Linked DNA regions of Homo sapiens: regions 1 and 2 are each linked to region 3. The links come from fine-mapping of genetic effects on gene expression. A gene starts in region 3. Each other region holds a variant in brackets. All regions are shown on one strand. Distances are from middle to middle. Region 1 overlaps ILKAP (ILK associated serine/threonine phosphatase). Region 2 has its middle 9.3 kb from the start of ILKAP. Region 3 holds the start of ERFE (erythroferrone).

Evidence for each region. PIP is the estimated chance that this variant, and not a neighbour inherited with it, causes the effect.
Region 1: its variant is fine-mapped to the expression of ERFE in whole blood (TOPMed, PIP above 0.99).
Region 2: its variant is fine-mapped to the expression of ERFE in whole blood (TOPMed, PIP above 0.99).

Annotation. Positions count from the first base shown.
Region 1 is chr2:238,187,610-238,190,365 of GRCh38, forward strand. It overlaps ILKAP (ILK associated serine/threonine phosphatase), which reads right to left. Exons shown (of 12, transcript NM_030768.3): 4 at 2,244-2,363; 5 at 522-648. Among named protein-coding and RNA genes, the nearest start is that of ILKAP, 15 kb to the right of the region's middle. The variant G/C (reference allele first, on the strand shown) is at 1,158.
Region 2 is chr2:238,211,617-238,214,372 of GRCh38, forward strand. No RefSeq gene overlaps it. Among named protein-coding and RNA genes, the nearest start is that of ILKAP, 9.3 kb to the left of the region's middle. The variant G/A (reference allele first, on the strand shown) is at 1,116.
Region 3 is chr2:238,157,569-238,160,324 of GRCh38, forward strand. ERFE (erythroferrone) reads left to right here and starts at 1,402. Exons shown (of 8, transcript NM_001291832.2): 1 at 1,402-1,637. The coding sequence starts at 1,440. RefSeq lists a silencer at 1,380-1,449.

The sequences.
Region 1 (2,756 bases), 30 kb after region 3:
GTTCTTCCTGGGCCCTGATTATCTGTACTAGCTCTGCTTGATCACCATTCATACTTTAATTAGTGGCTTCCAACTCTTATCTTCTAGGTCATGGATTAAAAATATTCTCTGCCAGAAGCCGCTCAGTTGCTGGTAAGGAGTAACACACGCTGCAGAGCCATGCTATGAAGCGTCATCTCCCGCTCAGCAGGGCTGCTCAACCGCGACACTACTGACATTCCAGGCTGAACAATTCTTTGTTGTGGGGCTGCCCTGTGCTTCTAAGATGTTTACCAGCATCCCTAGTCTCTACCCACCAGATGCCAGTAACAACTCCCTCCCGCAGTTGTGACAAAAATGTACCCAAACACTGACAAATGTCCCCTGGGCGGGGAGCAAAATCAACCCCAGCTGAGAATCACTGATGTACAATCAAGTGATGTGTTAGATTTTCTAGTAAATACAAACTAGCCAGTCCAAAATGCCAGTCAGAACCCAGGAGATGTTAATGCCAGCCGGGCTTCCTACCACATGAGACTCACATGAGGGACGATGGGGGCCTACACTCCTCGGTGATGTCGTTCAGGATGACGTGGGCATCCTGCATCTCCTCCCTCTCACCCTTCCGCTCAGCCACATAGCCCTTCAGACCAAAGATCACCGAAGAGGCTAAGGAAAAGAGAACAAAAGAGCCAATACAAAACTGTGCCCAACCCTCTGGAAACCCTAGTCCCAGAGCAAATGAGAGGGAACTATGACTGTCTGACTCAGCAATATCCTAATGGCGCAAACAAATAAGCAATACCCCTTAAGGCATCTCCCCCAGCTGCAAGTCTATAACTCAAATCGGAGCACTGTTGGACAGGGTGAGCTCTAAGAGGTTGCACAGGGACACAAAAGAGGAGTCAGTGAGCACAAAACAACTCTGTCTAGGGTGTAAGTCAAAGCATCAGGGCAAGGGATGTGCTGCCATCCCAGAGAAGTGAGATTCAAATCAGGCAAAAGGATCATGTGCAAATTAGTCTTGTGATAATTGAATAAGGACAAATGCAAGTCAGGAGAGTTTATCTCAAAAGCCCTTAAGATGCCCTGAAAATATGTATTTCCATGCTCAAGGCTGGTGAAGAATTTGAACAAACAGTAAGATCAGCTGCTTTTACTTCAACTGAGGAAGAAAA[G/C]GATAAAAGATTCCAATGCAGGCAGAGATCTATTTACATTTAATGGTTAGACTCATTTAAGCTTATTTTCTGATACCTAATGCCAGACAAATAATAAAATGAACACTGTGAAGAGCTGTCTTCTGGGAAGTGACAAGCTAAGTTGAAGATGACATCTTCCCAGCAAAGCTACAAGTGGGTTTTTTCACATACCTCTGCCTGCATCATACAGCTTTCACTGAGGTAATCTGTGACAAAGGACAATGCAGTCAATGAAAATCCCACAGCTCGGGCCAGGCACGGTTGCTCACGCCTGTAATCCCAGCACTCTGGGAAGCCGAGGCGGGCAGATCACAAAGTCAGGAGATCGAGAGCATCCTGGCTAACATGGTGAAACCCCGTCTCTACTAAAAATACAAAAAACTAGCCAGGCGTGGTGGCAGGCGTCTGTAGTCCCAGCTACTCGGGAGGCTGAGGTAGAATGGTATGAACCCGGGAGGCGGAGCTTGCAGTGAGCCGAGATGGTGCCACTCCAGCCTGGGCGACAGAGCGAGACTCTGTCTCAAAAAAAAGAGAAAAAAAGAAAATCCCACAGCTCAAGAATACTTTAGTACCACAACTGAAGTATTCTCTTTAGTTAATACTTTTCGTTTTCTTCCTCACTAACTTTGACAAGTTACACAACTGACTACAAATTTCAACGGCTTTTTCCAGGCTTAGGGAAGCTGCCTACTAAGCTAAATCACGTAATTCAAAGCACTAATTGACAAACTGCAAACAAAGATTGGAAGTCAGAGAGAGACTAGGTGGTCAAAAAACTAACCATTCACTGCAGAAGGCTAAGAAAAAAACCACCTGTATTTTTTAACTCTTGAGGAACAAATGTAGGTTTCCTATCTGATCAAAGGTAGGATCAGAGATAGATGTACATGAAAAGTAGGAGAAAGCACAGAGAAACTTGGAAATTCATTTGCAAAAAGGGAACCCTACTTATTTCTTAAATACAGACATAAAAAGAAAGTATTATTAGAAAGCTGAAACTGGTTTTGCTCTGGGTTGTTTTAAAATATGAAGTCTAATACATTTGTTTTCAAATTGTCTGAAAACCTTTACAAACTTTCTTTTCCACAAGCTCTTCACTGCCATTCTTCTCTTCCTCGGAGGTTTTTCTCTTTGCTCCTTTCCCTTCAGTCTTTACCATCTGGGATATTGATGTGGCAAGAGAACCTGGAAATAAAGTAAAAGCCAGACAGAAACACAGCTGTAGACTGTTGGAAAAAGTCACTAGTAGACTGGGCTTCATCCTAGCACTCAAAGACAAGGTCATTTGAAGCAAGGACTGGCAGACACAGGCAGACCCAGGAGTTGTGTCTTCATGGTTGGCGGGGAGGGGGAGGGGGGTCCCACAGTGAGAGAACATAAAGTTAAGATCCAGGCCCTGAGTCAAACTGACCCTGCTGAAGGGGTTTGTAAAAGACTTTTCCCAGTGGTAAAAATACATGGTTTTTTTTGGCCTGTAGCATATACATGTTTTTATATCCACAGGCTCTTAGTGTTAAACAAACACTTACAAAATCTGTAAGCAAACTAACATATCCTAATCACGTTCCAAAAAGTAAC
Region 2 (2,756 bases), 54 kb after region 3:
CTTCAGTGAGGCGTGATAAGAAGAGGGCAGGATTTTCCTGGGGCTCTTGTGTAATTTAACTTTTTCTTTTTTTTCTTTCTTTTTTTTTTTTTTTTTGAGACAGAGTCTCACTCTGTTGCCCAGGCTAGAGTGCAGTGGCGTGATCTCAGCTCACTGCAACCTATGCCTCCCGAGTTCAAATGATTCTCTTGCCTCAGCCTCCTGAGTACCTGGAATTACAGGTGCCCGCCACCATGCCCAGCTAATTTTTGTATTTTTAGTAGAGATGGGATTTTTTGCCATGTTGGCGAGGCTGGTCTCAAACTCCTGACCTCAAGTGATCCACCTGTCTCAGCCTCCCAAAATGCTGGGATTATAGGTGTGAGCCACTGCACCCAGCCTCAAAAAACCAACTTTTTACCTCATTGATCTTTTGTATTGTCTTCTTCATTCCAATTTCATTTCTTCCTGTTCTGATCTTTATTGTTTCCTTTCTTGTACTAACTTTGGCTTTTGTTTGCTCTTGCTTTTCTTTAAGATGCATCACTAGGTTCTTTATTTGAAGTCTTTCTTCCTTCCTTTCTTTCTTTCCTTTCCTTTTTTTTTTTTTTTTTTTTGACAGAGTCTCACTCTGTCGCCAGGCTGGAGTGCAGTGGCGCGATCTCGGCTCACTGCGAGCTCCGCCTCCTGGGTTCACAACATTCTCCTGCCTCAGCCTCCCAAATAGCTGGGACTACAGGCACCCGCCACCGCGCCCAGCTAATTTTTTGTATTTTTAGTAGAGACAGGGTTTCACCGTGGTCTCGATCTCCTAACCTCGTGATCCACCCGCCTCGGCCTCCCAAAGTGCTAGGATTACAGGCGTGAGCCTCTTTCTTTCTTTCTGTGCCCAGCCTCTTTCTTTCTTTCTTTCTTTGAGACAGAGTCTTGCTCTGTCGCCCAGGCTGGAGTGCAGTGGCATGATCTTGGCTCACTGCAGTCTCCATCTCCCAGGTTCAAGCAATTCTTGTGCCTCAGTCTCCCAGGTAGCTGGGATTACAGGTGGCTACCATCATGCCTGGCTTTTTTTTGTATTTTTAGTAGTGATGGGGTTTTACTGTGTTGGTCAGGCTGGTCTTGAACTCCTGACCTCAAGT[G/A]ATCCACCCGCCTTGGCCTCCCAATGTTCTGGGATTATAGGCATGAGCCACTGGCCCCAGCTTGAAGTTTTTCTTCTTTCTTAGTGAAGGCACTTATAACTATAAAATTCCCTCTTGGTACTGCTTTTGCTGTATCCTATAGGTTTTGGTATGTTGTATTTCCACTATCATTTCTTTCAAGATATTTTTCAATTTCCTTCTTAATCACATCATTGATCCACTGGTCATTCAGGAGCATATTGTTTAATTTCCATGTGTTTGTCTAGTTTCCAGAATTCCTCTTGTTATTGATTTCTAGTTTTATTCCCTTGGGGTCAAAGAAGATACTTGACATTACTTCAATTTCTTTGACTGCTTTAATTCTTGTTTTGTGGCCTAACATGTGATCTATCCTTGAGAATGATCCATGTGCTGAGGAGAAGAATATATTCTGAAACTGTTGGATTAAATTCTCTATAAATATCTATTAGGTCCATTTGGTCTGTAGTGCAGATTAAGTGTGATGTTTCTTTGTTGATTTTCTCTTCAGATGATCTGTCCAATGCTGAAAGTGGGGTGTTGAAGTCTCCATCTGTTGTTTTTTTTTATTTTTTATTTATTTTTATTTTTTGAGATGGAGTTTTGCTCTTGTTGCCCAGGCTGGAGTGCAGTGCTGTGATCTTGGCTCACTGCAACCTCCGCCTCCTGAGTTCAAGCAATTCTCCTGCCTCAGCCTCCCGAGTAGCTGGGATTACAGACATGTGCCACCACGCCCAGATAACTTTGTATTTTTAGTAGAGATGGGGTTTCACCCTGTTGGTCCAGCTGGTCTCAAACTCCTGACCTGAGGTGATCTGCCTGCCTCAGCCTCCCAAAGTGCTGGGATTACAGGTGTGAGCCACCATGCCCAGCCTCCAGCTGTTATTGTATTGCAATCTATCACTGTCCTTAGCACTAATAATGTTTGGTTTATAGATCTGCATGCTGCAGTGTTGGGTACATATATATTTACAATTGCTATATCCTCTTGCTGAGTTGACCCCTTTATCATTATATAGTGATGTTGTCTCTTTTTATAGTTTTTGTCTTGCAATCCGTCTTATCTAAGTATCACTACTCCTGCTCTTTTTTCAGTTCCATGCATATCTGTTTCCATCCTTTTATTTTCAGTCTATGTGTGTCTTTATAGGTGAATAGTGTTTTATGTAGGCAACAGACCATTTGGTCTTGTTTTTTAATCCATTCAGCCACTCTATGTCTTTTGATTGGAGTGTTTAGTCTATTTACATTCAATGTTATTATTGATAAGTAAGGACATACTCCTGCCATTTTGTTGTGTTCTAGCTGCTTTTGGTTTTCTCTTCCTTCTTTCCCTCCTTCCTGTCTCCCCCACACCCTTTTTTGGAGACAGTCTTGCTCTGTTTTCCAGACTGGAGTGCAGTGGTGCAGTCATGGCTCACTGCAGCCTTGACCTCTTGGGCTCAAGTGACCCTCCTGTCTCAACCACCTGAGTAGCTGGGACTACAGGTGTGTGATATCACATCTGACTAATTTTTTTATTTTTCCGTAGAGATGGGCTCTTGCTTTGTTGTCCAGGCTAGTCTTGAACTCTTGGACTCAGGCAGTCCTCCCACTCTGGCCTCCAAAATGCTGGAATTACAG
Region 3 (2,756 bases):
AGGGGTGGAATCACAGGGAATAATTACCTTCTGATCCCATGCTTTTCCTAAAGTATGAAGTATTTCCTGGTTTCCCCACCTGCCAGGCATGAGGCCAGCCAGGTGGAACATCGCATGAGTGGCCAGAAAAGGCAGGCGACAAAGGCCAGCTTGCATCTGAGGACGGAACTTGGCCCATCCCCAAGCCTGGGGGGCACCACCTGCGGCTGCTGGTGCCCCTTTCAGTCCCTGCTGCCACATCCTGTGAACCAGGACAGGGTAAGGCCTCCTTTCCCCAGCGGGCTCTTCTCAAAAGAGTTCCCCGGGAACAGCAGCCCTCGGTGTGAGTGTAAGGTACTTTTCCAGCGGAGCCTTCTCCCGTTCTTTAACAAAAAGCACTGTGTACCCACCAGGGGCAGGTGCCTCGGGGGTGGGGCAAGCGAGCCAAGTGTGCGACCCTCCTCGGCTTAGCGTCCAGTGGTGGGGCAGATAGTCAAAAGGGCATGCGATATAACAAAGCCAGGGGTAGGGTGGGGCTGGGGCTGGCTCTTTCCTGGTAGGGCCGCCCAGAGGCCTCTCTGCCACCTTCTCCGAGGCCTGCAGGGTCTGGTCCACCTCTGGGGGCACTGATTCCGGTGGGCGGTGGGCAGCCTGGCTTCCGGTCTGGTCTGCCCCCACACCCCCGCTAGGGCACGATAGGGGTCAGTTCTCCCAGCCCAGGCCCCGCTCAGCCCCACCAGGGCAGGGCGGCTGTCCTGAGTTGTTTCTTGGCTCCCTGCGTCTTCTGGGTCCCGGCAGGTGCGACAGGTGGGGAAGAACAGTGAATCCCTGCGCTCAGAGCACGCCAGCCATGGACGGAGGGCGGCCTGGAAAGGGGAGTTCCCGCCTGGGAAAGGGGCGCTGAGAAGGGGCCCTGAGGGTCTCCCGGCTCAGATTTGCTCCACCTGTGTCATAGAGGCCTGGGCCTTGCGGGGCGCAGCCAGGAGAATGGGGAGGGGGTACCTCGGGGGTCCCTGCAGAGGACGTGGGGGACAGAGCGGGGAGAAAGGATGCCTCGAGCCGTCTGGGAGGAGGCAGCGCCTGGCTCCCCGCAAAGAAAATGGGGTCGCGAGGGCCGAGGGTCCAGGGCTGGGAGAAGGGGCGCCTCGCTCCCCAGGAAGCAGAAGCGCTGGACAGCGCGAAGGAGGGATCCCAGAACCAGGAGTTGCAGGGGGGACGCGCCCAGCAGGGGAACACCCCTCGCTCTCCCTGCCCTGCCCCGCTCCCCGTGCCCCCTCCCCCACTCCCCCTCCCCCGCCCGGACACTCCCCCCATCCCCATGCAGCGCGCACGGGAGCCGGGAGGGGGCGCGGGCGGGCGCGCGGTCTCGGGCGAGGCGGGGGATTCAAGCGCGTTATAAGGCGAGGAGCCCGGGGCGTCCGAGACGCCGCGCTCGGAGCCGCGAGGGAACCGCCGCCCGCATGGCCCCGGCCCGCCGCCCCGCCGGAGCCCGCCTGCTGCTCGTCTACGCGGGCCTGCTGGCCGCCGCCGCCGCGGGCCTGGGGTCCCCGGAGCCTGGGGCGCCCTCGAGGAGCCGCGCCCGCAGGGAGCCGCCGCCCGGGAACGAGCTGCCCCGGGGCCCCGGGGAGAGCCGCGCGGGGCCGGCCGCTCGTCCGCCGGTAAGACGCCCGGGCCCGCTCCAGACCCAGCCCGCGCCCGCACGCCCCGGCTCGGGGCGGCGGGAGGCGGACGTGGAGGCCGAGCCCGCCCTCACCCCCGAGGGCTGCTGCATCGCCTGGCACCGGGGCTCCGGGGCTCCGCAGAGACTCAGGGCCGTGTAGACGCCGCCCTCAGCCCGGCGGGGCAGCCTTGACTTTGGCTTTGGGGTAGTTTGACTTAAAGCAAGGTTCTACTAGGTCGGCGAAACCCCCCTTTTCTTTTGGGACAGAAGGAAGTTGGGAAATAGATAAAGTGTAAATAACTTGATTTGAGGAAATTGGGAAGAACGCATTTGTAAAAAGTGTAAGCGAATTACTGCCACCGCCCCCAATCTATTTGGTGCAATTATCTGGAAAACAAAAAGTGTTTTCCTGCGGATCTGGGGTCGGGGGGCTGTGCAGGGTGGGGAATGACATGTGGCTTTGAGTCAAGTGATCAGGTGGCTTTTGGCCGTGAGTGGGTGATCTTGAGCTCTGCCCTGCCCCCTCCTCTCCAGGGTTTTGGAGCCTGGACTGCTGAGCAGAGGGTGGTCCGGTTGGGGAGGTGTGGCCCAGGCCTGAGGAGGGGAGAACTTCAGAGGAGCCCTCAGTGTGGCCGGGCCTTGGGTCAGGGAGACAGGGCTGCCCCAGGGAAGCCGGGGTGGGCGGCCGGTGCTGTTTATTCTGAAGATGCTCAGGGGCAGTAGAGGGGAGAGCCAGGAACGCATCTACTAGAGAGGACAGGGGTGCAGCCAGGCCTGGGGTCCCCCAGAGTTCTCTATCCCGGCCCCATCACACCCAGCCACTTCCCAGGGACTGAAGGCACCCCCTCCCCGTGCAGTTGGCCAAACCACCCAGGTGGGCACAGCAGCCAAATGTCAGGGCACTGTCAGCAGGAGGCAGACGGGGCTCAGGGGCTTCCAGGTGGAGTTTTGGCCTTGGACCCTGTTTGTGGGGGACACAGTGACACCAGAGGTCCTCCCAGGCTCCAAGGCTTGTTTCTGAGAGACCCCTTGTGGCTGGAACCAGGGCAGCTGCCCAATACCCACCCCCATTGCTGGGGCCGTCTCCTGGGACGCCACCTTCTGCCTGTTACAGCTC